Homo sapiens: one gene and its partners. The protein of the gene in region 6 purifies or fractionates together with the protein of the main gene of each other region. This does not show direct contact. Each region holds a gene or a part of one and is shown on either strand. Other genes may lie near its edges.

Region 1 (3,500 bases), on a different chromosome or scaffold from region 6:
AGCCTCCTGAGTAGCTGGGACTATACACAGACACACGCCACCATGCCCAGCTAATTTTTGTATCTTTAGTAGAGATAGGGTTTCACTATGTTGGCCAGAATGGTCTCGATCTCTTGACCTCGTGATCTGCCCACCTCAGCCTCCCAAAGTGCTGGGATTACAGGCGTAAGCCACCGTGCCCAGCCGTGAAATTTATTTCTTAATGCTTATAGAAAAGTTTTAAAATGTATTTTAATTAAAATTTAAAAATTTTTAAAAATAAAAGAGGCCAGGTGGCCTCTTTTAATAAAAGGTGGCTCATGTCTGTAATCCCAGCACTTTGGGAGGCTGGGGCGGACAGATCATTTGAGGTCAGGAGTTCGAGATCAGCCTGGCCAACATGGCAAAACCTTGTCTCTACAAGAAAATAACAAAAATTAGCCAGGTGTGGTGATGCACACCGGTAGCCCCAGCTACTCCGGAGGCTGAGGTGGGAGAATTACTGGAACCCAGAAGGCAGAGGTTGCAATGAGCAGAGATCATGTCCCTGCCTTCCAGCCTGGGAGACAGAGAGAGATCCTGTCTCAAAACAAACACACAAGAAAAACCCCAAAAACAAAACACCCCTTGATCATGACACAGAGAAGCTGAAACTATCCATAACATCCATAATTCGATGTTAAATCCCCAGTGGGACACAGATGACTTGGTGAGACTAATGAAATAAATGACAGCAATGATAACTGACATACAGATTAAAAGCTAAATTCCTCAGCCTAGCTCCCAATCACATCTCCCCAAGTAAGACCCTTCTGTTTCCACCAGAATGAATGCGTCTACACTTGACCTACTTGTTACTCAAATTACTTCCCCAATCTGGAATGTAGCTGAAGTTTTATGACTTCCCAACGGATTTTTTTAAAGGAGGAATAGGGATGGGGAAAGTGGTGGTCTGTGACCCAAGAACTCTTGCCCAATTAACTTGTCTTCCTGAAATTTCAAACTGAGTAATATACAGCAATTTTGTATGTATAACCCTGCAGAGAACCAGGACAGACTGAGTCTTTTACTTCTATTATCATATTTGTGATTTTTATATATCATCACACTGGCCAAACTTTACATCATCCCAAATCTTCATAAACTACAACATTATGCTCTAACTTCACAAATACTGTCTACTGATTACATACATACTTCAAAGTTCACTGGGGTATGGTGGTTTATGTCTGTAATCCCAGCAACTTGGGAGGACCACTTGAGGCTAGGAGTTAGAAACCAGCCTGGGTAACATAGGGAGCCCTGTCTCCACAAAAAAATAAAAAATAGGCTGGGCGCGGTGGCTCACGCCTGTAATCCCAGCACTTTGGGAGGTGGAGGTGGGTGGCTCACGAGGTCAGGAGATCGAGACCATCCTGGCTACCACGGTGAAACCCCGTCTCTACTAAAAATACAAAAAAAAAAAATTAGCCGGGCGTGGTGGCGGGTGCCTGTAGTCCCAGCTACTCGGGAGGCTGAGGTGGGAGAATGGCGTGAATCCGGGAGGCGGAGGTTGCAGTGAGCCGAGACTGCACCACTGCACTCCAGCCTGGGTGACAGAGCGAGCCTCTGTCTCAAAAAAAAATAAATAAATAAAATAAAAATAAAAAATTAGCACCCAGCGCAGTGGCTCACACCTGTAGTCCCAGCACTTTGGGAGGCTGAGGCAAGTGGATCACCTGAGGTCAGGAATTTGAGACTGACCTGGCCAACATGGTGAAACCCAGTCTCCTCTAAAAATACAAAAATTAGCCGGGTGTAGTGGCGGGTGCCTGTAATCCCAGTTACTGGGGAGGCTGAGGCAGGAGAATTGCTTGAACCCAAGAAGTGGAGGTTGCAGTGAGCCAAGATTGTGCCATTGCACTCCACCTGGGATACAGAGCAAGACCCTGTCTCAAAATAAATAAATAAATAAATAAATAAATAAATAAATAAATAATTAGCCAGGTGTGGTGGCACACACCTGAAGTCACAGCTACTAGGGAGGCTGAGGCAGGAGGATCCTTTGAACCCAGGAGGTTTGAGGTTGGAGTGAGCTATGATCATGCCACTATACTCCAGCCTAGGTGACAGAGTGAGACCCAGTCTCAAAATAAAAAAATAAAAATAAAAGATAAGAGATTGCTGGCCCTTGCTTAACTTTTAAAAATTTTTTTACTTTGAGATAGGGTCTTGCTCTGTCACCCAGCCTAGTCTGGAACTCCAGGACTCAAGTGTACAATCTACCCACCTCAGCCGCCCAAAGTGTTGGCATTACAGGCGTGAATCACTGTGCCCAGCCCCTTGCTTAGCTTTAAAAACAAGTACACCAAGGTTCTTTTACATTGGCATTGGGTAATAGCTGACAAGATGCATCTCAAACTGCTATTAAAGAAACCAATGAGGCCGGACGTGGTGGCTCAAGCCTGTAATCTCAGCACTTTGGGAGGCTGAGGCAGGTAGATCACCTGAGGTCAGGAGTTTGAGACCAGTGTGGCCAACATGGTGAAACTCTGTCTCTACTAAAAATACAAAAATTAGCTGGGCACAGTGGTGCACACCTGTAGTCCCAGCTACTTGGGAGGCTGAGGTGGGAGAATCGCTTGAATCCGGGAGGCAGAGGTTGCAGTGAGCCGAGACTGGCCATTGCACTCCAGCCTGGGAAACAAGAGTGAAACTCTGTCTCCAAACAAACAAACAAAAAAGCCCCAGTGAGCATAATATGTCTTTTTTCAAATATATTCCATGGGTTTCTGTCACTGAGACTAGTGCACCTTCTGGATGGCCATATACAACAGACATTCCTGTACAAACCTCTGCAGTGAGGTACTCCAGAATCGCAGCACTGTACACGGCAGCAGTGGCACCCACCCTTCCATGGCTTGTGGTGCGAGTCTTCAAGTGTCTGTGGATGCGGCCCACAGGAAACTAAAAGAGAGATGTCTTAGTGGGAAGCACTGCAGAGTCTTAACATTGCACTGACTGTAATCAAAGGCTGAACAATGTAAGCATGAAATAATAAAAAACTTGATCACACATATCAGAAGCCAAACCTATTACGCATCAATAGTTCCCAGGGCCTGTGTCTCTGTTCTGGTAATCTGTCCAAAATCTTTAACCTCTGCATAATATGGGAAATATCACTCTAAAATGAAGAAATACCACGCTGGGCTGTCATCAACTGTACGTTCAACATGACCCATGGATCAAATTCCTATCTAGTTAATTTCTTCACATAATAGCCACATGCAACTTTGAACCTCCAATACCTTCCTCAGATCTTAAATGTTCTTTCTTCAGTTTCAAGAGGTGATCTGATAGTTAAGAAAAATCAATACTATTATCTCATTGTGGTTCTTTCTACTTTCTGAAAAAGAGGGTATTTTTCTCATTTCAAAGTATCCTGATCCCACTTGTCTGTGCCCTTTATTATTTTTTTTATTGAGACAGAGTCTCACTCTGTCACCCAGGCTGGAGTGCAGTGGCGCCATCTTGGCTCACTG
Region 2 (3,500 bases), on a different chromosome or scaffold from region 6:
TCTGACCCCCTTCAGAAACCTCTGTTGAGGTCGATGCTGCCTTCCCTGCCAAGGTCAGTGAGGCTTGCACATGAATGGGCTGGGCAGCACGGGGGTCAGGGACGGGGGGGTTCTGTCTCCTCACGGTTTGGTCGGCAGCTGACTTGGAGGAACTGAAATCTTCATGCAGGGATGAGTGTGGCTCAGAACCAGACCTGGCAGAGAGGCTGCTGAGATGACTAGTTCTGATGGGATGTGGTCAGTCTGAGCTGAAAGAGCTGTCAGGCTGGGAGCTGCCTATCCTTCATCTGCTCAGCTGCAGGTTTCTTCTGTGACACAGGAGAATGTTGTAGAAAGAGTAAGACGAAATGGTTGGGAAGGAAATTTGGTTCTTGAGATACTGGTCCTGACTCCTGAAGAACCAGGAGTGAAGCCCGTCTGGTGATTGAAGGCAGGGAGCAGGTGGGCCTGGGCGCTGCGGGTCTGCCCTGGAGCTCTGGAACCGGAGGCTTCTGCTCTGGGAGGTGAGGGTTGTTTCCCCCAGGTCCTCCCGGGCAGAGAAGCTGGGGAATCCAGGTTCTTGTCTTGCATCTTCTCCTCACCTTTAACGTCCCTCTGAAACCACAGAGCAAGTCTCACACCTCTTCTTTTCGTCCGTTTTTGTTGGGGACATTAGGACTGGGCGTTCATCAACACCAACATCTTTGCCAGGACCAAGATAGACCCCAGCGCCTTGGTGCAGAAGCTGGAGCTGGACGTGAGGAGTGTCACTTCCGTCAGGAGAGGTGAGGCAGGCTCGAGTGCACGGAGCGTCCCTTCCATCAGGAGAGGTGAGGCAGGCTCGACGGGTTACCATGCTGATACCCAGCAGGTCTGGGATTGTTCCCTCAGGCACCCGAGGTCTCAGCAGCTTTCCAGCTAACCTGTACCTGACAATGTCCTTGAGCAAGGGATGCCCCTGGCTGTTTCTTGGGGCGATTCCCCAGAGTAGATTACAGCTGTGGTTTTGCCCCTGGGCTGCATCATGTCTCCGCAGCTCTGCAAGAACTGCTCTGCGTCCTGGCAGCCACGCTGAAGCCACAGGAACTTGGGCTTTGGTGACCAACAGGGTTTGAACTGTTTTCTCCGTGTGTGCTGATTCTTTCGGTCTGTCTGTATGTTTGGGGCAGTTTTGATCCTTTTCTTAAACAAGTGCTTTATGTGTTGCAGAGGTTAGCTGCTTATCATTTTGTACAAATAACTCTTGAGGGTTTAGATCCTGAAGCCGAAGCAGGGTCCTCTCAGTTTCATCAGATCCATGCGCAGCCCTTCCCGTCTCCTGGTTGTGCTCCTTGCAGCCCTGCAGCACACACGTCAGCCTGGCCAGTGAGAGGGTCTGGGAACTCCCACTCACTCCAGTGTCCGGAGCTTAGCAGGGAACGCCGTCCCCCTGCACCTCCTACTGAGTCTGAGGTGTTTTAGAGAGTTCCCGGCCACCATGGTCAATGCTGGGAGTGTTGACTTTCTGGCTGGAGGATGGTGAGCAGTGTCACTTCCCAGGGATAAATCCAGGAAAAAGCTTCCTTCACTCATCTAAGGGAGTCGGTGAGGAGCACAAGGAATACTTTTTACATCTTGACAGCCTTGGGAAGTCATAGGTTGGGGAGGGAGAGGGCCTGGCTGTGGGGGCAGAGCTCAGGGCACCAGTGTGACAGTGAAGACTGCATGTGGCTTCACAGTCGGCAGAGCTGGGAGCGCCAGGACAGGGCAGGAGCCGGGTCTGGGGCCTGTAGATGGCCCGTTAAGATCGTGGGCTCTGGGCCTCTGCCCCTCACCGCCTGGTAGCCTCTGGCTGGACACTTGATCGCTCTGGGCCTGGGCTTTGCATCTGTCAAAGGAGGTAACAGTATTTATCTCCTAAGTTCTGGCAGTTTTGAGTTTGAGATGAGGTAGTTGGTGTGAAACGTTTAAAACAGTGCAGTGAAGGCTGTGGAGGCGCCCGCTCTGCATCTGTTGAACGAGGCTGGTCTGGTGGGAAGGCTGGGGACGAGTGGGTTTTGCAGCTGCCCAGAGGTGGGCCAGCCCTAATTCCTTGGGCACAAGTCATGTGATCACGGGTGCTCTGTGACCCTTAGCTCCATTGTCCACAAAGCGGCGACAGACATAGCTCATAGATGCTAAGGGCCTCACTGTGCCTCTAGAAAGATCCAGGTACATTTAACCAGTGCAGGTTTCCTGCTCCTTCTCTCCAAGGAGGACCTGGTGAGGTGACCAGGCCAGGTAACTCCAGAGAGAAGCTGTGCCTTCCAGCCAGGAACGCTTGATGTGGGTGGTCCGCCCGAGCTGTGTCCCTGGTTGCTGACAAGGCCCTTAAGGCTGTCCCCAAGGGGATGGGAGTCGTGGGTCTCAGTGACCTGGCTCTGGCCTGAGCTTCTCAGAGCTCTTTCACACAGCAGCCTCTTTCCTCTGCCTTTTCTTGGCCCTCTCCCTTCAAGCCCCTGTGGCTCATCTGGTCCCCAAGGTCACCTGCTGCACTGACTGTCACGTCCCCTCTTCCCCTCCTAATTTAGGGAGACGTCACGCTCACGACCCGTCTTGCCTACCAGGGAAACTCCTCTTTAGCAACATCTGGCCTCGCAGCGTTCTTGGGCTGAGGTCGTGCCCAGCAGCCCTGTGGCCTCTCCTTTGAGCCATGCTGGATCTTTGTTTTTGTTTGTTTGTTTTTTGTTTGTTTGTTTGTTTGGAGACAGAGTCTTGCTCTGTCGCCAGGGTGGAGTGCAGTGGCTTGATCTTGGCTCACTGCAACCTCCGCCTCCTGGGTTCAAGTGATTCCCCTGCCTCAGCCTCCTGAGTAGCGGGGACGGGACAACAGGCACATGCCACCACGCCCAGCTAACGCCACCACGCCCGGCTAATTTTTGTATTTTTAGTAGAGATGGGGTTTCACCCCGTTGGCCGGGATGGTCTCGATCTCTTGACCTCAGAGATCTGCCTGTCTTGGCCTCTCAAAGTGCTGGGATTACAGGTGTGAGCCACCACGCCCGGCCTGGTCTTTGTTTTTCGTAAGCTCAAACCTCATTAATTTAGAGTAACTGGTGGGAGAGGGTAGAAGCTTGAACTTTACAATGTCAAAGATTGATTTCAAATTTCAGAACCATGTTATCAGAGTAGAGCATAGAAGTGTTTTCTTGAAATAATTGAACAATAAGTTGAAAAAATTTGAAGATTCTATTGTTTGTGAGTCTGTTGGGTAATTAATTTTTTTCTTAATTCACATACCCTTATTTGTGCATAAAAATCTTAAAGCTTGTGCTGACGGGACTGTAGCGTGGCCCGTTCTGGCGCTCCCCAGCCCTGAGCTCGTGCTGACAGTAGCGTGGCCCGTTCTGGCGCTTCCTGCTTGTGTGCAGGTGTTTCCCATAGCCCGCCTTGAGGGGCACGAGGATGGGAATTATTTGAGCCGTGCGGCAGGGTCAGGGTTTTGGGTGTTGGGGAGGAGCCTTGGCCTGGGGAGGCACTTAGTGCTTCTGGCCAGGAGCCGG
Region 3 (3,500 bases), on a different chromosome or scaffold from region 6:
TTATGACTGAGACAGTCAAAGAGATCTAATCTAACCGACTCCATCTTGGTTCTAACCTTTAAGCTGTCATTGTTCGTTCCTGGGTGTAGGCTGAACTAACTTTGGGAGAACTTAGTTTATAGTTTATAGTCTAAAACAAAGACAATAAAAGCCATTTCCCAAACAAACCCCCTTCTTGCCTGGAGACTAGATTGCCTTTGTAGGACTAACAAATTAGCCAAAAGATTAGAAATTATCATTTAGGAGTCATGCAGCTGAAGGCTACAAGATTCTGACCACCACTAAACTGCTCCTAATATCACTGCTTGAGATATTTTGCAGACCCTGCACTTGATGGATCAGCTGGCAACACCCAGATCGATAAATTGGCTCATCTGATCTTGTGGCTCCCACCCAGGAAGTGACTCAGCACAAGAAGACAGCTTTGATTCCCTATGATATCATCTCTGACCTGACCAATCAGCACTCCTGGCTCACTGGCTTCCTCCCACCCACTAAATTGTTCTTAAAAACTCGGATCCGTGAATGCTTGGCGAGACTGATTTGAGTAAAATAAAACTCTGGTCACGTGCACACTCGGCTCTGCGTGAATTACTCTTTCTCTACTGCAATTCCCCTATCTTGATAAATCAGCTCTGTCTAGGCAGTGGGCAAGGTGAACCCTTTGGGCGGTTACAAATATAAGGACACTTCCAGGAACAGTCTGTTACTACACAGGTGTGTATTCCCTCTTTTTTTTTTTGAGACGGAGCCTCGCTTTGCCGCCCAGACTGGAGTGCAGTGGCATGATCTCGGCTCACTGCAACCTCCACCTCCCTGGTTCAAGCAATTCCCCTGCCTCAACCTCCCAAGTAGCTGGGATTACAGGCGCACACCACCACGTCTCGCTAACTTGTTTGTATTTTTAGTAGAGGTGGGGTTTCACCATGTTGGCCAGACTAGTCTCGAACTCCTGACCTCAGGCAATCCGCCTGCTTCAGCCTCCCAAAGTGTTGGGATTACAGGTGAGAGCCACCACGCCCCACCAGGAGTGTATTCTTACACCAATATTCTGCTATACTCTTAGATGAAGAAGGGACAACCCTAGTCAGCTAATAAACTGGCACCCTTCCAAACCTCTACTTAGTATTAGTTGTTTAATCTTTATCTGAAGAAGCTTAGTAGTAATTCACCTCTTTGAGGTTCAACCCCATTCAGAATGGCACAGTAGTTAACTAACATTAACTGAATCCACCCTCCTTAAAATGACAGTTTGATAATCATCTTTTGTTATTCAAAATTATGTGTCTTAGCTCACCTCCCAAAAGGATTAATAAAGTACGGTATTCTTTCCAACCACATTCTAATCTCTTTCTGAGAGGAGTTCTGGTAAGTGCAACTTTCTCCATCTCTTTACATTTATGAGTCTGAAGTTTCCACATGTCTGGGAATTTCGGGACTGGCCCCGCCGCCCCACCACCCCACCATAGTCTGGTTGCTCAGATAGTTAACTGCTCAACTACTTACTCCAAGTTTATCATAAGTCCCTTTGAAAGAAAAAGCTAGGAAATAAAAGACGGGAATTTTATTGCGTATATACCTCAAGCCTCAAAGCAAAGAAGGCTGTAACTGAATTTTAAGACAAAATATAGCTATTTCTTCTTTTTCCAGTTAAAAAGCAATTAATAGGACAAATACAAATATCTATGAATATAGAACTATTTAAGCAATATTTAAAAACTAAAATATCCAAACAATTACAAATAGCCCACTTATTAGCATGTAAGCAGAACTGACCTGTTCATATGAAATCTAGCTACTGCTATTAATAAAACAGTGTAGCATAATAAATGAATTTCAATTACAATGAAAATGTGGTGTTACAGACTATGAAATTTTTGCATATTAAAACAACTTTTTTGGTTGGGCACAGTGACTCACACCTGTAATCCCAATACTTTGGGAGGCTGAGGCAGGTAGATTACTTGAGATTAGGAGTTCGAGACCAGCCTGGCCAACATAGTGAAAGCCCGTCTCTACTGAAAATACAAAAATTAGCCGGGCATGGTGGTGTGTGCCTGTAATCCCAGCTACTCGGGAGGCTGAGGCAGGAGAATCGCTTGAACCCAGGAGATGGAGGTTGCAGTGAGCCGAGATCATGCTACTGCACTCCAGCCTAGGCAATAGAGTGAGACACCATCTCAAACTAACAAGCAAACAAAAAACACTTATTTTCTCCTAAATAACAACAAAGAACCAAAAAAACAAAACAAACCCTTGCATCTTTCTGAAACTATTAGGACCACGGACACTTCTACCTCAGCCCATATCTATCAGCTCACATCCTGGAATCTCTCAAAATCCTCCTCTAGGTTTTCTTGGGGTTTCATTTTTGTTTTTGTTTTTCTTGTGGAGAAGGGTTTTCTCTATGTTGCCCAGGCTGGTCTCAAACTCCTGAACTCAAGCGATCCTCCCACACTGGCCTCCCAAAGTGTTGGGATTAAAGGTGTAAGCCAAGGAGCCTGGCTCTCCTCTAGTTTTTAAATTAACCTTTTGACAAAATGAAGCTTACCTACTGGCTCTCCATCACTTTCTGGATTCTCTTCTTTAGTGAAGACTTCAGCCTGTGGTTCCAGCTGAGGAAGTGGTTTCAGTACATCAACATTCATCGGGCCATTTCGTAATCGTTGTTTCAGTAGAGAAACCTAATATAAATGTGCTTCATTAGAAAAAAGTCAAAAAAAACTATGGGAGTAGTACAATTGTCCCTTGGTATCTGTGGGGGATTGGTTCCAGGATTCCCTGTTAATACCAAAATCCGCAGGAGCTCAAGTCCATTATATAAAATGGTGTAGTATTTGCATATAGCCTACACACATCCTCCAGTATAATTTAAATCATCCCTAGATTACATAAACTACCTAAATAATGAAAATGCTATGCAAGTAGTTGTTGTACTACATATATTTTAGAAAATAATGAGAAGAAAAAAAGTCTACATGTTCACTACACATGGTTTTCACCCCCTAAATATTTCTGATCCAGTTGGTTGAATCCACACATACAAAAACACATCAATGTGGATGGCTTATTGTACTTTATTTAAAACAGAGAGAGGACGGATTAAATGATATTCTTCTTACTAAAGTGGGGGAAAATAATCAAAATAAAAAGTTTACTCCCAATACAGCTGGTTTTTATATTTGCTATTATTATTATGCAGTTAGTCAAAAGATACAATAAATAAAAAAGTATCCTTAACATTAACTGAAGAGCTAGGAGTGGTGGCTCATGCCTATAATCCCAACACTTTGGGAGGCCAAGGCGGAAGGATCGCTTGAGCCCAGGGGTTTGAGACCAGCCTGGGCGACATAGTGAGACCCCATCTCTACAAAAAATTTAAAAATTAGCTGGGCGTGGTGGCATATGCCTGTATTCCCAGCCACTCTGGAGGCAGAGGCTGGAGGATTGCTAGAGCCCAGGAATTTGAGATTGCAGTTAAGCTATGATCACGCCACTGC
Region 4 (3,370 bases), on a different chromosome or scaffold from region 6:
TCAGAGTTAGTTTAATCTATGACCCAATTTTTTCCATGTCTTGCCTCAGAAAGGATAAACATTCCTAAATTAGTGATCTCCAAACTTTGTTAACTGGTAGAATGTGCTTTCCTAAAGAAGTTGCTCATAGAACTCAGGGGCAGAGTCTATTCCTAACAAGTCTAATGAACTTAAGAGAGGAATAGGGCTGGGCTAGGGGAGGGGAGACTGCATAACGGATAGAAGGGAAGCAAACAAATAAAAATGTTTGCACTTTGCAGTTATTCTTTTCATGTGTTTCCCAGTCTTGCTTTCCCTTCGCTTTCTCTAACATCTTTTCCTCATTGTCTTAATGACCACCATGTCTTACTTTAAGAGTTGGTGCAAAGGAGCCACTTTCACAGAATATGCTTAGGGGAAGCTAATGAATCCCTGTCTTTCCTCATAACTAGGCTTCCAGTGGAAACTGCAGTATATAAGATGTGAAGCCTATTTGAAAAATGGCTTGGTAACCAGAGTCCGGTCCACTTTTTCCTCGTTTGGAAGACAGCGGTCCATCTCATCCCCTACCTTGTCCCTGAGCACGTGTACACAATCCTAAGGCTCCATGGGACTGTTTAGATGTACCTTTATAAATAGCTGTGACTAGATTTTGGTCTTTTAAATCACAATGAGAGTCTTTGCTTTTTATTATATAATTCTTATTTTTTGGTCTTATTCTTAAAACTACTTTGTGGTTTTTGAGCATTATTTGTTTTTGTTTTTTTTGAGACAGGGCCCTTGCTCTGTCACCCAGGCTGGAGTGCAATGGTGCAATCACGGCTCACTGCAGCCTTGACCTTGAGGGCTTAGTTGATTCTCCCACCTTAGCCTCCCTAATAGCTGGGACTACAGGTGTGTGCCACCACACCCAGCTACTTTTTTTATTTTTTGTATTTATTTTCCCATCTCGGAACTTTGCCATGTTGCCCAGGATGTTGTCAAACTCCTAGACTCAAGCAATCCACCCACCTCAGCCTTCCATACTATTGGGATTACAGGAGTAAGCCACTATGCCTGGCCAAGCATTATTTCTTCTTCTTAACTTTGATGCTCTCTTTTTCTCTAATCTTTTGATGCTCTCTTTTTCTCTAATCTTTTGGAAGTCACACAGTCTATCTGTTTACTCTTAGTTACTTTGGAGTAAACAAAAATGTCTTACACTATCTAAGCATATTTCTTCTTTTTTTTTTCTATTGCAGCTCCAAATAGATTGGGAGAAAATCAAAGCCAAAATTGAGATGGAAATTACAAAAGAAAGAGAGCAATCATCAAGCAGCCAATCCAGCAAGAGTATAGGTTTAAAGCCCTAAATGCCATGCGTATCTTTAAGAAATTTTATCTTTTGAAACACGTTCTGATTAACCAAGGGTAAGCATGTTTTGGTTGCTAAAGAAAAAAGCATAATCTTTAACCGAGTATAAGTACTTGCTGTGTATTTAGTGTAAAAGTACATGCAGAAAGATGAAACACAAAGTAATTGATGTATTTCTATCTTTTATATTTTTTAGTCCAATAATTAGCAAAATATTACTATGTACTTAAGAGATACCTGTGTAGTGTCGATTATATGTCAGTTTTTTGCCCATTACTTCATCCCTAAATCTTCAGCATGAACAAATATTAATGTCGATAATAAAACATTGGACTCTTTGAAATGTATGTTACCATTAATTTCTATTTGACCTCTAAATTGTAAAATGCCTCCAAAAGTTTATTTATAGAACAAAAATACATGAGGATGGATTTGTACAAATGTATAAAATGCCACTATTTATACACCAAGTTCATAGCAGCATTACTGGAATAGCAAAAGATGGAAACAGCTCAAGTGTCTATCATGAATGGATAAACAAATGTGCTATAATACATACAATGGAATATTATTTAGCTTTAAAAAGGAATGAAATTCTGATAAATACTACCTCAGGATAAACCTTGAAAACACTATGCTAAGTGAAATAAGCCAGACACAAAAGGCCAAATATGATGCCACTTTTATGAGGTACCAGCATAGGCAAGTTCACAGAAACAGAAAGGAGAATAGTGGTTGCCAGGGACTGCAGGGAGGAGGAAATGGGGGGTGGGGTTATTGTTTAACGAGTACATAGTTTCTGTTTGGGATGAACAAATTCTGGAAATGGATAGCGATGATGGTTGCTCAACATTTTGAATGTTAATGCCACTAAATTGTACCCATAAAAATGGTTAAAATGGTAAATTTTGTTATGTATATTTTATCATAATTTAAAAAATATATCTAGAATGGGCAAGAAGGATTCTCCTCATTCCTCTCTTGACTTGAGAATGATCAGTCAATAGGCCCTGAAGTCTGAATTTGTGAAAATTTCCTTGGGTGACAAACTTGTTTGATTACTCTATTTAGTGTATCCCAAAGTTATTACCACATAATCTTTTAAACAATAAAACAAATACCCCTTAGAAAGTCTTCTGCAAACCCATTTCTGAAAATGGTACATTATAGGGTGGGTATAGATGCATAGATATGGGATTATGTATGATATATATATATATACACACACACACAAAGGGATAGAGAGATTACCTCTCTTAACCCCCATTTTAATTACTATGTCTAGGTTTTTTAAATAAAAATCTTTTCTTTTTAACATGTTTCTTTTCTTTTCCGGAATATTGGAATATTCTGTTCTTGATCCAGATGAAATCTGATTGAGCAGTGTACTTACAAGTTGTACTGTGTATGTGTTTCCTATATTGTTATATTTCAATAAGAAGCTTAAAATGTTTAAAAATAAATGGTTAAAAGGTTTTATGTTATGTATATTTTACCACAATAAATGCAAAAAATAAAAAGTCTGTGTTCTAAACAATTCTCTCATATCCTAGAATTCAATCCAATTCTAACACTAACTACCTAGAATTAGAAACAGATCCCACAAGTTAAAGGGCAAGGTTCCCAAAAAGACTGCCTTTATTTATTTATTTGTTTATTTATTTTTTGAGACAGGGTCTGGCTCTGTCACCCAGGCTGGAGTGCAGTGGCCCCATCACAGCTCACTGCAACCTCCGTCTCCCGGGTTCAAGCAATTCTAGTGCCTCAGCCTCCTAAGTAGCTGGGATTACAAGTGCCCACCACCACACCCAGCTAATTTTTGTATTTTTAGTAGAGACAAGGTTTCACCATGTTGGCCAGGCTGGTCTCAAACTCCTGAATTCCTGACCTCTAGTGATCCGTGCTCCTCGGTCTCCCGAGGTGCTGGGATTACAGGCATGAGCCACCGCACCTGCCCTAAGACTGCCCTTATTTTAGACTCCAGCCACAATCAGAGTCCCCAGGCTACTCACACTTGTGTCTGACTTGGCTGCACAT
Region 5 (3,500 bases), about 50 Mb from region 6:
ATAATAATATTCATATTAAACCTATTTGTGTGTATATGTGTGTGTGTATATATATATATGCATACATATTTTAATAATGCTTGAGTTCTTTCATTTTATATTAAAAATAAAGCAGTTCTACCTCTCCCCTGTGCCCCACCACTCTTCCAGATGGCCTTACAAAGCCTTGCATACCTGACTTGGGGGCTACTGCTCTAGACACTCAAGGTCTCGACTTCTTTGGTTATTCACTCTCTCTGCATCGTCAGCCTCTTTCTCTTGTATCATTCTCATGAGTGTACTGAGAAACTCTGGTGTTCTCTAGCGTCTTCCATCATTAGAGATTGTCCCTTAGTCTAGCCTTCTTCTTTATCAAAAGCTCCATTTTTCTACTCCCCTTCATAGCAGAACCATTCAGAGACATCTCTACATGCCATCTCACTTCCTCCTCTTTCATTCCATCTTCGCCTACTCCAATCTGACTTTCACCCCCAGCACTCTACTGAGATTGCTCGTGTCATTGCCATCAGTGATTTTCATGCTGCCAAATCTACTGGATCATCTGTCTTCATCTCACTTGGCCTCTCAGTGTCAGGTGACATAGTTGAGTACCCCGCCCTTCTAGAAATGCTCTCCTCTTTTAGCTTCTGCAATAATACACTCTGCTGGTTCTCCTTTGTTGAGGCTTCTGCTGCGACTCAGGAAATAGCTTTGGTCTCCTTTTGATATTTGTACTGTTTCCCTAGGTGATCTCATTCATTTCTAGGCCTTTAAAACCAAGCTGTGTGCTGATCACTCCCACATTGCGTTCCTCTGCCCTGCTTTCTCTTCTGAGCTCCAGATGTGTACATCCAATTCCCCTCCCCCCGCCCACCATATTTTCACCTGGAGGTTTCATAGGTATCTTCAAGGCTGCAGCTCTACAGTGAACTCTTCATTTCCCCCTTTTCTTCTTTCTACTATTTCTCTTTTGCCTCAGTTTTCCTTATTTCACAGAATAGTAAATTGTTTATTTAGTTGTTAAATCCAGAAATCTGGAATGTATTCTTAACTTCTATCCTGAGCAACAGGGAGAAACCCCGTCTCTACTAAAAATACAAAATTAGCCAGGTGTGGTGGCGCATGCCTGTAATCTCAGCTACTCGGGCGGCTGAGGCAGGAGAATCACTTGAACCCAGGAGTGGAGGTTGCAGTGAGCCAAGATCATGCCATTGCACTCTAGCCTGGGCAACAAGAGCGAAACGCCATCTCAAAAAAACCCAAAAAACCCCAAAAGACTTATATCTTTTTTTATCCCTTACATCTAATTCATAAGCACATCCTTTAGTTCTACCTACAACGTATGTATTTCATCTGTCCACTTATCTTTGTCTCTATTTTAGTCCAGACCATCACTTTTCTTCCAGATGATTGTAATAGCACATTCCACGCTCACATGTGCCTCTTTCCAATCTGTGCCTGATATTATAACTAAGAGCGATTGTATAAGATGTAAATCAAGTTATTTTTCTCCCTTCTACATCCTCCAGTGCATCTAGAGTTAGCTTCAGATTCCTTACCACGACCTCTAGGGCTATGTGTGATCTGGCCTCCGCCTTCCTCTGCCTCCTCGTAGCATGCCACTCTGTCTTTGGCTCTTGTGCTCTAGTAAAACAAGCCTTTTTTTGTCCCTAGAATAGGTTGGTCTTTTTCCTGAGTGCCTTTGGCTTCTCTGGTCTGTCTTTCTGGGAAGCACTTTCTCTGGCTTGTCATATTTCTGGTGCCTTCTTTTCCTGAAGATCTCAGCTTAAATCCCGTCTCCTTAGAGAATTCTTCCTGTTCTAATAAGATTTCCTGCTGGTTTGTTTCTGTCTTAGTACTTAACACAATTTGGGGTTGCTTTTCTTTATTTATTTACTTGATTTGGTAGAAAGCTTTGTGAGAACAGGGACCTTGTTTCCATCTGGTGGTAGGTGCTCAATAAACAGATGCTGCATGAAAAAAAAAACGTTTGGAAGAATACTGGTCTTGCCCTGCCTATCATGTGAATGGTAATTACTAAATGAAGACAGAGAAGGAAGGTATCTTAACAATGGTGGGCAACACAATACAGGGAGGACAGGTTAATGTGTTGATCATGTCTGACTCTTTCTTTAAGACAGCCTAAAACTAGGGAGGAACAAATCAGATCAAACGTTACAGAGGTAAATGTAAAATCCTGTGATTTGGTTACAAATAAATCAGTTGCATTTTACAGAATCAGGAAACTCCAGTCTGACACCGATTCACATGCCAAGTCCTAAGGAAAGTGGTAGCCGAAAAGCTAATGCAGCCCTAACCTACATTAATCATTCCATGTATTTCTGTATTAGGGAAGGGAATTGACCAATATTACTCTCCTCCAGTGACACCAGTAGAATTATTAGAATTTTGTAGAATTACAATGTAATAATACCTCATTCATCCATGCACAAATCCATTTATTCATTCCTTTACCATTTACTGAGTAAATTCTGGGCACTCATATTATAGTCATGAGCAAAATTGCCATGGCTTTTGTGTTCATGGAACTTAATGTCTAACTCCTGAAGAGAAGTGAGTTCTCTTTTTGTGAAAGTGTTAAGCAGAAACCAGTTTGTCATTTATTGAGACAATGCATTCTCATGGTTAAGAACTCGTGCCCTGGAAGCCAGGGGTTGGTGTCCAGGGGCTTTAAATTCCAGCTCCAGTATTTGCCAGCTGTGTGACTTTGGGCAAATTAATGTCTTTGGTCAGATTAATGTCTCTGTGTTTCAGTGGTCTCATCTATAAACTGGAGATAATAATACTATGCCTAGAGTTAAAATGAGCTAATGCACACAAGTAACTTACAACAGTACCTGGTACGTAGTAAGCACTTAATAAATATTTTAGATAATAAGCAGTTAATAAAATGGTGTTGAGATTTAGGGTGAGAAAAAGTGGTCACAGAATAATCCTGGTGTATCAGGACACACATTATTATTTTTTGTTTTTTATTAAAGATTGTTAGTAATTTGAGCTTGAACTTGAAAATCTTGACTTTAGAGTTTGATGACATTTGTTTTATTTGGTTTTCTGTTTTGGGCTAGGAAGATGTGACTCCTATTTAGAAATAGCCACCAGGTAGTCCCCCCACAACTCCCCAAATGCTTACAAAGAAACACACCTTTGGAAATAATACAATTGTAGCTATATATCAACGTCTGTTTTTGCTTTGGTTTTGTTTTAGTGGCAGCTGAAATATCCTAAACTAATTCTCCGAGAAGCCAGCAGTGTATCTGAGGAGCTCCATAAAGAGGTTCAAGAAGCCTTTCTCACACTGCACAAGCATGGCTGCTTATTTCGGGACCTGGTTAGGATCCAAGGCAAAGATCTGCTCACTCCGGTATCTCGCATCCTCATTGGTAATCCAGGCTGCACCTACAAGTACCTGAACACCAGGCTCTTTACGGTCCCCTGGCCAGTGAAAGGGTCTAATATAAAACACACCGAGGCTGAAATAGCCGCTGCTTGTGAGACCT
Region 6 (3,500 bases):
TTTTTTTAAAGCATTTTAGGAAGTCCTCTAATTATATAGTAAAAATTGTCAGCAATGGCCTGCTAGTTTTCTATTTGACCTAATCACAACCATCCTCGTTAGGTCCTGAGGTCTGCTCTGCTGCTTGGCCAAAACCAAATGGTGCCAGGTCACAAAGCACTTGCACATGTGAATCCTGCATCCATTCTACAATGGGTCACTATTGACTGAAATACTTTAATAAAAATGATAGAGCACATAAAGCTTGCTGTTGACAGAAACTTCCGTGCTCAAGCAAGGCAGTGCTATACATGGTGAGACCTTGCACAAAGTCAGTTAACTAACAGATGATCTAGAAGCAGGTGACACAATGAAATACCCTTTGGAGCTGTTGCCTATGTCTGTGGATAGGCTCTTTGTAGCTAGGTTAGGCTTCTGTGTTAAAGTGTGTTAGAAGAAAGCATCACATAAGGAAAATAGAACTCTATTCGTATGTTTTTTCAAAACAGAAGTCAAGTCACATTCAGGCAAACCAAATCTGTAACATTCAAGAAGATGCAGTGACTCTTCCGCATCTTAGAGCCACGGTGTCTGAGGTGGCTGGCATGGCTCCAACACGCTGGCTTCCCTGTCAGTGGATCATTTACAATATGGTGCATTTCAAATTACTGGTGAATTCACTGAATACTGGCTGTTTTTTTTTTTTTAGGGGTAATCTTATACATAAAATTTAGGAAAAGAAAGAGAAAAAAGCAAAAATGACAGAAATAACTCAAAAGTTCCTAAAATTTATGTGTATCTTTTCGTACCTGTGAACTCCTGAATAAGTATTTATATCTGACAGGTACAAATACAATAATTATATTTTTAAGTAAAACCTATTTAATAATATGAAGTATGGTGTTAAATACATGTATTAAAAGATAAGTAACTTCAGAAGTCTTCTGACTTTTTAATTGTAAAATAAGTGAAAACTGTTTTGTGCTTTTTTATTTACTGTATGCTTTTTTTTTTTTTTTTTTTTTTGAGATGGAGTCTCACTCTGCTGCCCAGGCTGGAGTGCAGTGGCGCCATCTCGGCTCACTGCAACCTCCGCCTCCTAGGTTCAAGCGATTCTCCTGCCTCAGCCTCCCCAGTAGCTGGGGTTACAGGCATGCGCTACCACGCCCGGCTAATTTTTGTATTTTTAGTAGAGGTGGGGTTTCGCCATGTTGGCCAGGCTGGTCTCAAACCCCTGACCTCAGGTGATCTACCCACCTCAGCCTCTCAAAGTGCTAGGATTACAGGCATGAGCCACCACGCCTGACCTACTGTACGCTTTTTACAAGCAGCGTGCTTTTCTTTTTCTTTTTTTTAAAGACAGGGTCTCACTCTGTCACCCAGGCTGGAGTGCAGTGGCATGATCACGGCTCATTGCAGCCTCAACTTCCTGGTCTCAAGTGATTCTCCTGCCTCAGCCTCCTGAATAGCTGAGACCACAGGCATGCCCCTCCACACCTGGCTAATTTTTTAATTTTTTGTAGAGATGGAGTCTCACTTAGTTGTCCAGGCTAGTCTAAAACTCCTGGGCTCAAGTGATCCTCCCACCTTGGCCTCCTGAGTAGCTGGACCCAAGGGCGCTTGCCACCACTCCCAGCTAAGTACTTTTCATATTAAAAAAAAAGAAGAAGAAAAAAGAAAAAAACCAACTCCACTTCTAATTTCACAACAGAAAAATTCTTCTAGTGCTATTACTCTACTTAATTCAATCCTGTGTTGTTGTTTTTTTAAATCAGAAACATGAATCTGTACCAACACTTTTTCTTAATTGGCTCCTTCCCCTACAGAAACACTTAGGTAGCGAGCTGCAGGAAACCTGCCTTTGTCCCTGTGTTGTGCACTATGTCTTGCCACACTTTAGACAAAACAAAGCTCCTTTAGAGAAACCCTGGCTGGAGGGAAGAAAAGTGTCCCGGCTGTCATTGCCATGGGAGTCTGGAGTTTCTGAGAGGGCAGCCCAGGTCACCAGAGTTTCCAGATTTAGTACCAACCGTGGAAACATGAAGGTGGCTGTAATCCAAGGTGAACTGGACTGCCAGAGGAATGTCAGCTTCGGACAGAAAATGGAGGATTCCTCATCTGGAGCCTGTCTCTATTGCCTGATTTTCAAAGAAACCAAGTTTTCATTTAACTTTAGCTAACCTTCTTTCAGAAAAGTTTAGTTATTAAAATACATTTAATGCTTGGTATTGTGAACATGCAGACGAAAGAAAATAAGATTACAAAATGAAATAAGAGCTAGAATTAAAAGCCGATGTATAGGAAATGTTCTCAACTGTGCAAGTGATTAACAGCCAGATGTTCCCCTACGATTCCAAACATGAGTCCCCAGTGCCAAGTTCCAGCCCCAACTCTGCTGGAGTCTCAGAGAAAATGTATAGTAACAAAAGCAGCCAAGACTTGTGTGGCGTCAGCTCTTATTTCTTCTTGAGTTTTTGTCCCGTGGATGTGAATCACTAAGAACACATGCATTCCTCAAGTTTTAGAAGATAAATAAGGTGGAAAAAAATAAATCTTAGGGATTTGCTTCAATTCTTATTTAAGCTTCATGGAATGCAAACATAGGAGGCTAAAGCAGAAATAAGTATTGCTTCAGTGATCATGAGTCCAGCCAGCTTAGTAAACAAAACAGGGGTTACCTTCCTAACCTTCTAAGTTCCCATTTACCTACAAGTCTGAGGGTTTTAATCTGCCAGGGTCCCTTGGCAAAAGGGTCAGAAGTCATTGTCACTCTCATCCAGGGGTTCAGATTTCCGGACCCTTCGATTGGGCTTGGTTGGTGAGAGAGAAATGCTCTCGTCTTCCAAATCGTCATCCTCGTCATCATCATCTTCCATGTCAATTTCACTCTCCTCCGAGTCCTCCTATAGGAAAAAAATGGCAGATGCAACGGGGGATCCTGCCTCATTCCTGACATCTTGTCCTAAGACTCTCTGCCTCCCTTTCTATAGCAGCATCCCTGTGTGAAGGAAGAGGCTGGCAGAGTGGCAAGCAGGCTGTGGGAGGGCATACAGATGGGACTGAGGCTATGTACTGCCAGCTGGAATTTATCATCCAACCAGAATCCTCCAAACTGCAGGTGCATCTGGGTGTGGTGCTGCAGGGGCTGGCTTTCCCGCAGCGTCTAAGAAGCACTCTGCATCTGCGCTGAGGGCCACTGGACCTAGAGACTCCCCCTACAGATGGCAAGAAGGACAGGGGCTTGGAGAGAGGGAAGGGAGGCCTGTTTTGGCTTTTTGTAGATTGTGGATGGAAAGCAACATAGACATTGGTATAAGGAGCAAAGTGAATCCCAGCTACTCCGGAGACTGAGGCAGAAGAATCGCTTGAACCTGGGAGGCAGAGGTGCAGTGAGCCGAGATTGCACCACTGCACTCCAAAGCAAGACTCCATCTCAAAAAAAAAAGAAAAAAAAGAAAAAAAGGGAGCAAAGTGAAAGACACACCCTCTCTCTCCTCATCGGATCCAGGGCTCCAGGGTGA
Region 7 (3,500 bases), on a different chromosome or scaffold from region 6:
CAAAGACATCCCCTCAAAGGGAGTATGCATGCCTACTACAGGGACCACCCCTCTCTTCTTAGACCAGACCCCCTGCAGGACCCTTTGCTGGCACAGCAGGGACTTAGCATGCATGGAAGCTAATTAGGTGAGAGACTCTGCTTCTGCCTCCTGGAGAATTTCAATCCAAGACAAGCACAACAAGTTGTGAAGGACCAACAAGGGGAGGAGTACATCTCAACAAGTTGGTTGAGAAGGACCAACAAGGGGAGGAGTACACCCTTAGCATGGAACTCAACCACAAGCTCTCAAAACAGGTAATGTCACCATGACCCATGGGATCACATGTGCGTGGACCACGTGCTTCCTCACATCCCTTAACTCACCTGACATGGATCAACAGGTAACTCCTGTATTCTCACTTGAATGAAGAGAAGAGAAACTCAGGTTTAGAGGCTAATCCCAAAGACATATGACTGGTTAGAGTAGAACCCAGACTCTGCACTAAGCATTCAGAGGCGGCAGGCTGTGGAACGCTTGAGGACTTGGCCCTAGAGCCAGACTGCCTGGGTTCAAATCCCAGCTCGGCCTCTTATCAGCTGTGTGACCCTGGAAAAGTTACTCAGCCTCTTGAAACAGATGAGGAAGATGGCTTCCTCATCTGTAAAATGGGGAGGATGATCATAACAGTGCCTATTTCATAAAACGGTTACAAAGATGAGTTCATTTATGCCAAACTCTCAGCCATGCCCAGTGTGTTTCTGTGCATCAACCTTGAGGTGCAGTGGAAAGAGAGTCCCTGGAGTTCCGTCTTTGGTCAAGGTGGGGCTGCAGGAAGCTGGCCTCCCTCCCGCATCAGCACCAATCCAACCCTCTATCCCAGTGGGTGAAGGTATGTGGTTATGTGCAGCGGACAATGTGGCAAAGCTGCATCCATTTACCAAGAGAACTCTGATGGACTACAAATCCTGGACCTCAATGCTGAGCAATCTCTAAAGTAAACAAAGTGAAAATAAACCAATCACCCAGGTAATAGAAGATTTTCCTCTTGTCTGCACTGGTAATTGGGTCATGGTAGCCAACCTCCCACGTCCCCTGGTGCTGCTGTGAGTTTAAAAGAGAGTAAAGGAAGCTGTCTGGCCAGAAACACGAGTGCAGGTTCCGGGAGGAGGGCAGCCACACCCGCTGGTTCCAGCTTGTCCTGGTGCACCTGTAGCACGTGTGCTACGTCTCACCCTTCTCACCTTTCCTCTAACTAAGCCCAGAAGGGCACAGAGCTCCACAGGCTCAGGGGTGCACCCAGAAGGGCACAGAGTTCCACAGGCTCAGGGGTACACCCAGAAGGGCACAGAGCTCCACAGGCTCAGGGGTGCACCCAGAAGGGCACAGAGTTCCACAGGCTCAGGGGTACACCCAGAAGGGCACAGAGTTCCACAGGCTCAGGGGTGCACCCAGAAGGGCACAGAGTTCCACAGGCTCAGGGGTACACTACGAGCACAGGACTGGGTGTTAAGCCTATCCAACCTCACTGCTGGGACTTGCTTGGGTAAAACACGGTTTCCACTTTCCCACAAGTTCTCAGGCCCAGCCTCACATTTTTCCACCCCCAGGCAGGGCAGCTCTATTGTGTGAATAAGGGATCTTCAGCACAGATGGGGTGGGGACAGAGGCCCTTGGAATCTGAACCACAGGGGAAGCTTGCCTGCTCCTACCTCCATGCATCTTCTAGAAACACCTGGAGCATCACCCAGAGTCAGACTCCACCCACCATAGAGCCTGCTGCCCCATAAATGCCTCCCTTGGCCAGCCCCATCCAGGATGTGTCAACAAACAGACAAGGGAAGAAAGTGTCCCGCTGGCATTCCGAGAAAGCCAGGGCTGGGAGCCAAAACACACCGACAAGGGGGATGCTCTGTCTCCTGAAGAATCTGTCACAAAAGAAAATTCTATAGCCCTCAAGCTGGAAGAGGCCCTGGAGATAACTTTGTCATCACAGGGTGGCACCCTCTAGTTGCCCCAGGCAGATGAGGTCCTAGAGGAACCCGTCCCTAATATTGAACTTCAAGAGGTCCTTCCTGTATCTAACTCAGCCTTCAGAGAAAGGGCAGAGCAGTTACAAGGCAAGGATGACTGAGAACTCCAACACCTGAGGCCAAGACTCAGCACTGTGTACAAGGTGTGGAGCCTGTAGAGGACAAACCTGACTGAGGGTTGTCCTCCCCCTCACCTCAGCCTGACTGCAAATTTGTTTATGTCATCCGGATGACGTCATGCTAACTTGACCAGTTGGAGCAGCTGTGAGGGAAAACAGACCCCAAAGGTCCCTCTCCTGAGTCCTGTGAGGGGAAGGGGGTGTCTTTGTGTGGATGCTGTTGGTGAGTAGAGAGCCAATGGAGCATAACGCTTACAGTGCAGGCTCTGAAATAGCCAAGCTGCCTGAGTTCAAATCCTGCCTCTACCGTGTATCGGCTGTGTGACCATAGACATGATACTGTGCCTCTCTCTTCCTCAGTTAACTTTTCTATAAAATGGGCATGATGGCAGTGCCTAGCCAATTGGGTTGTAGTGAGGCTTCCATAAGGGAATACATGGACAGCCCTTGGGCCATGCCTGGCACTTTCTTTGCATTGCTCTTGTGAAGGTGACCAGTTTGCCTGGAACATCCTGGCTATGCTTGTGGTCCCAGCATTGCTATGAATATTCCCCCTTTCACTCCCGGCAGTGCCCGAGGTTGGATGATGTATTATAAGAGTGACTCCCTTTGGCTTCTTCATGTCCACCTGGTTATCTCCCTGCTTCATGCTGCCTCTGAGTACTGGGGAGCCAGGTTCCCAAAATATAGGTCCCCAAAGTAGGTTCTGCCCATGCCACTGAGCTGTCTGCTCCACAAACTCAGCTCTTCCTCTTTTCCTTCTTCTCTGCACTTTGTCTCTTCTCCTTCCTTGATCCTTACAGCCATCCTCTCCTTTCCTGCTTCCCTGTCCGTGCCTTAGGATTCTGCTGGTGCACACAGGTACCGTCTGGCTTTATTGGGACTTCCCCCTGACCCTGTACTTGGACGGAACCCTTTATGGCTCTAACTAAACTGTGCCTTATCAAATTTCTCTCAGAGGAAAGGAAGCGATTTGAAAAGGCAAAGAAATGACCAATAGATGGATGAGTGGAACAATGTGCTGGTTTTTGTTGTTGTTGTTGTTGCTGTTTCTTTGTGTGTGTGTGTGTGTGTGTGTGTGTGTGTGTGTGTGTGTGTGTGTTGTGTTGGTAGGAACAAAAAGTGTACCAGTTTGAAATGGTCCATTGAATGCTAGACCTGTCTATAGAACTGTCCCCAGGGCTATTTTTTTTATTTTTTATTTTTATTTTTTGAGACGGAGTATCGCTCTTGTCACTCAGGCTGGAGTGCAATGGCGCAATCTCAGCTCACTGCAAACACCGCCTCCCGGGTTCAACCAATTCTCCTGCTTGGCCTCCTGAATAGCTGGGATTACAGGTGCCTGCCACCAAGCCCAGCTAATTTCTGT

The links.
Region 1: the proteins of CLUAP1 (region 6) and H2AZ2 purify together in Homo sapiens (affinity purification with mass spectrometry, with the first as the bait; one large-scale study listed by BioGRID). This does not show direct contact.
Region 2: the proteins of CLUAP1 (region 6) and SLX9 purify together in Homo sapiens (affinity purification with mass spectrometry, with the first as the bait; one large-scale study listed by BioGRID). This does not show direct contact.
Region 3: the proteins of CLUAP1 (region 6) and GOLGA4 purify together in Homo sapiens (affinity purification with mass spectrometry; one large-scale study listed by BioGRID and IntAct). This does not show direct contact.
Region 4: the proteins of CLUAP1 (region 6) and IFT80 purify together in Homo sapiens (affinity purification with mass spectrometry; 2 studies listed by BioGRID and IntAct, with this or other methods). This does not show direct contact.
Region 5: the proteins of CLUAP1 (region 6) and FTO purify together in Homo sapiens (affinity purification with mass spectrometry, with the first as the bait; one large-scale study listed by BioGRID). This does not show direct contact.
Region 7: the proteins of CLUAP1 (region 6) and CRACR2A purify together in Homo sapiens (affinity purification with mass spectrometry; 3 studies listed by BioGRID and IntAct, with this or other methods). This does not show direct contact.

Annotation. Positions count from the first base shown.
Region 1 is NC_000007.14:44,838,088-44,841,587, forward strand, and holds part of H2AZ2 (histone H2A.V), read right to left. Parts: intron 2,926-3,500; coding exon 2,812-2,925; intron 1-2,811. UniProt on the Homo sapiens protein: Variant histone H2A which replaces conventional H2A in a subset of nucleosomes. Nucleosomes wrap and compact DNA into chromatin, limiting DNA accessibility to the cellular machineries which require DNA as a template.
Region 2 is NC_000021.9:44,943,029-44,946,528, forward strand, and holds part of SLX9 (ribosome biogenesis protein SLX9 homolog), read left to right. Parts: intron 1-655; coding exon 656-809; intron 810-3,500. UniProt on the Homo sapiens protein: May be involved in ribosome biogenesis.
Region 3 is NC_000003.12:37,295,271-37,298,770, reverse strand, and holds part of GOLGA4 (golgin subfamily A member 4), read right to left. Parts: intron 2,685-3,500; coding exon 2,552-2,684; intron 1-2,551. UniProt on the Homo sapiens protein: Involved in vesicular trafficking at the Golgi apparatus level. May play a role in delivery of transport vesicles containing GPI-linked proteins from the trans-Golgi network through its interaction with MACF1. Involved in endosome-to-Golgi trafficking.
Region 4 is NC_000003.12:160,256,486-160,259,855, reverse strand, and holds the end of IFT80 (intraflagellar transport protein 80 homolog), read left to right. Parts: intron 1-1,220; coding exon 1,221-1,331; 3' UTR 1,332-2,870; downstream 2,871-3,370.
Region 5 is NC_000016.10:53,822,656-53,826,155, forward strand, and holds part of FTO (alpha-ketoglutarate-dependent dioxygenase FTO), read left to right. Parts: intron 1-3,208; coding exon 3,209-3,500.
Region 6 is NC_000016.10:3,535,504-3,539,003, reverse strand, and holds part of CLUAP1 (clusterin-associated protein 1), read right to left. Parts: intron 2,883-3,500; coding exon 2,733-2,882; 3' UTR 1-2,732. UniProt on the Homo sapiens protein: Required for cilia biogenesis. Appears to function within the multiple intraflagellar transport complex B (IFT-B). Key regulator of hedgehog signaling.
Region 7 is NC_000012.12:3,746,610-3,750,109, forward strand, and holds part of CRACR2A (EF-hand calcium-binding domain-containing protein 4B), read right to left. Parts: intron 1-3,500.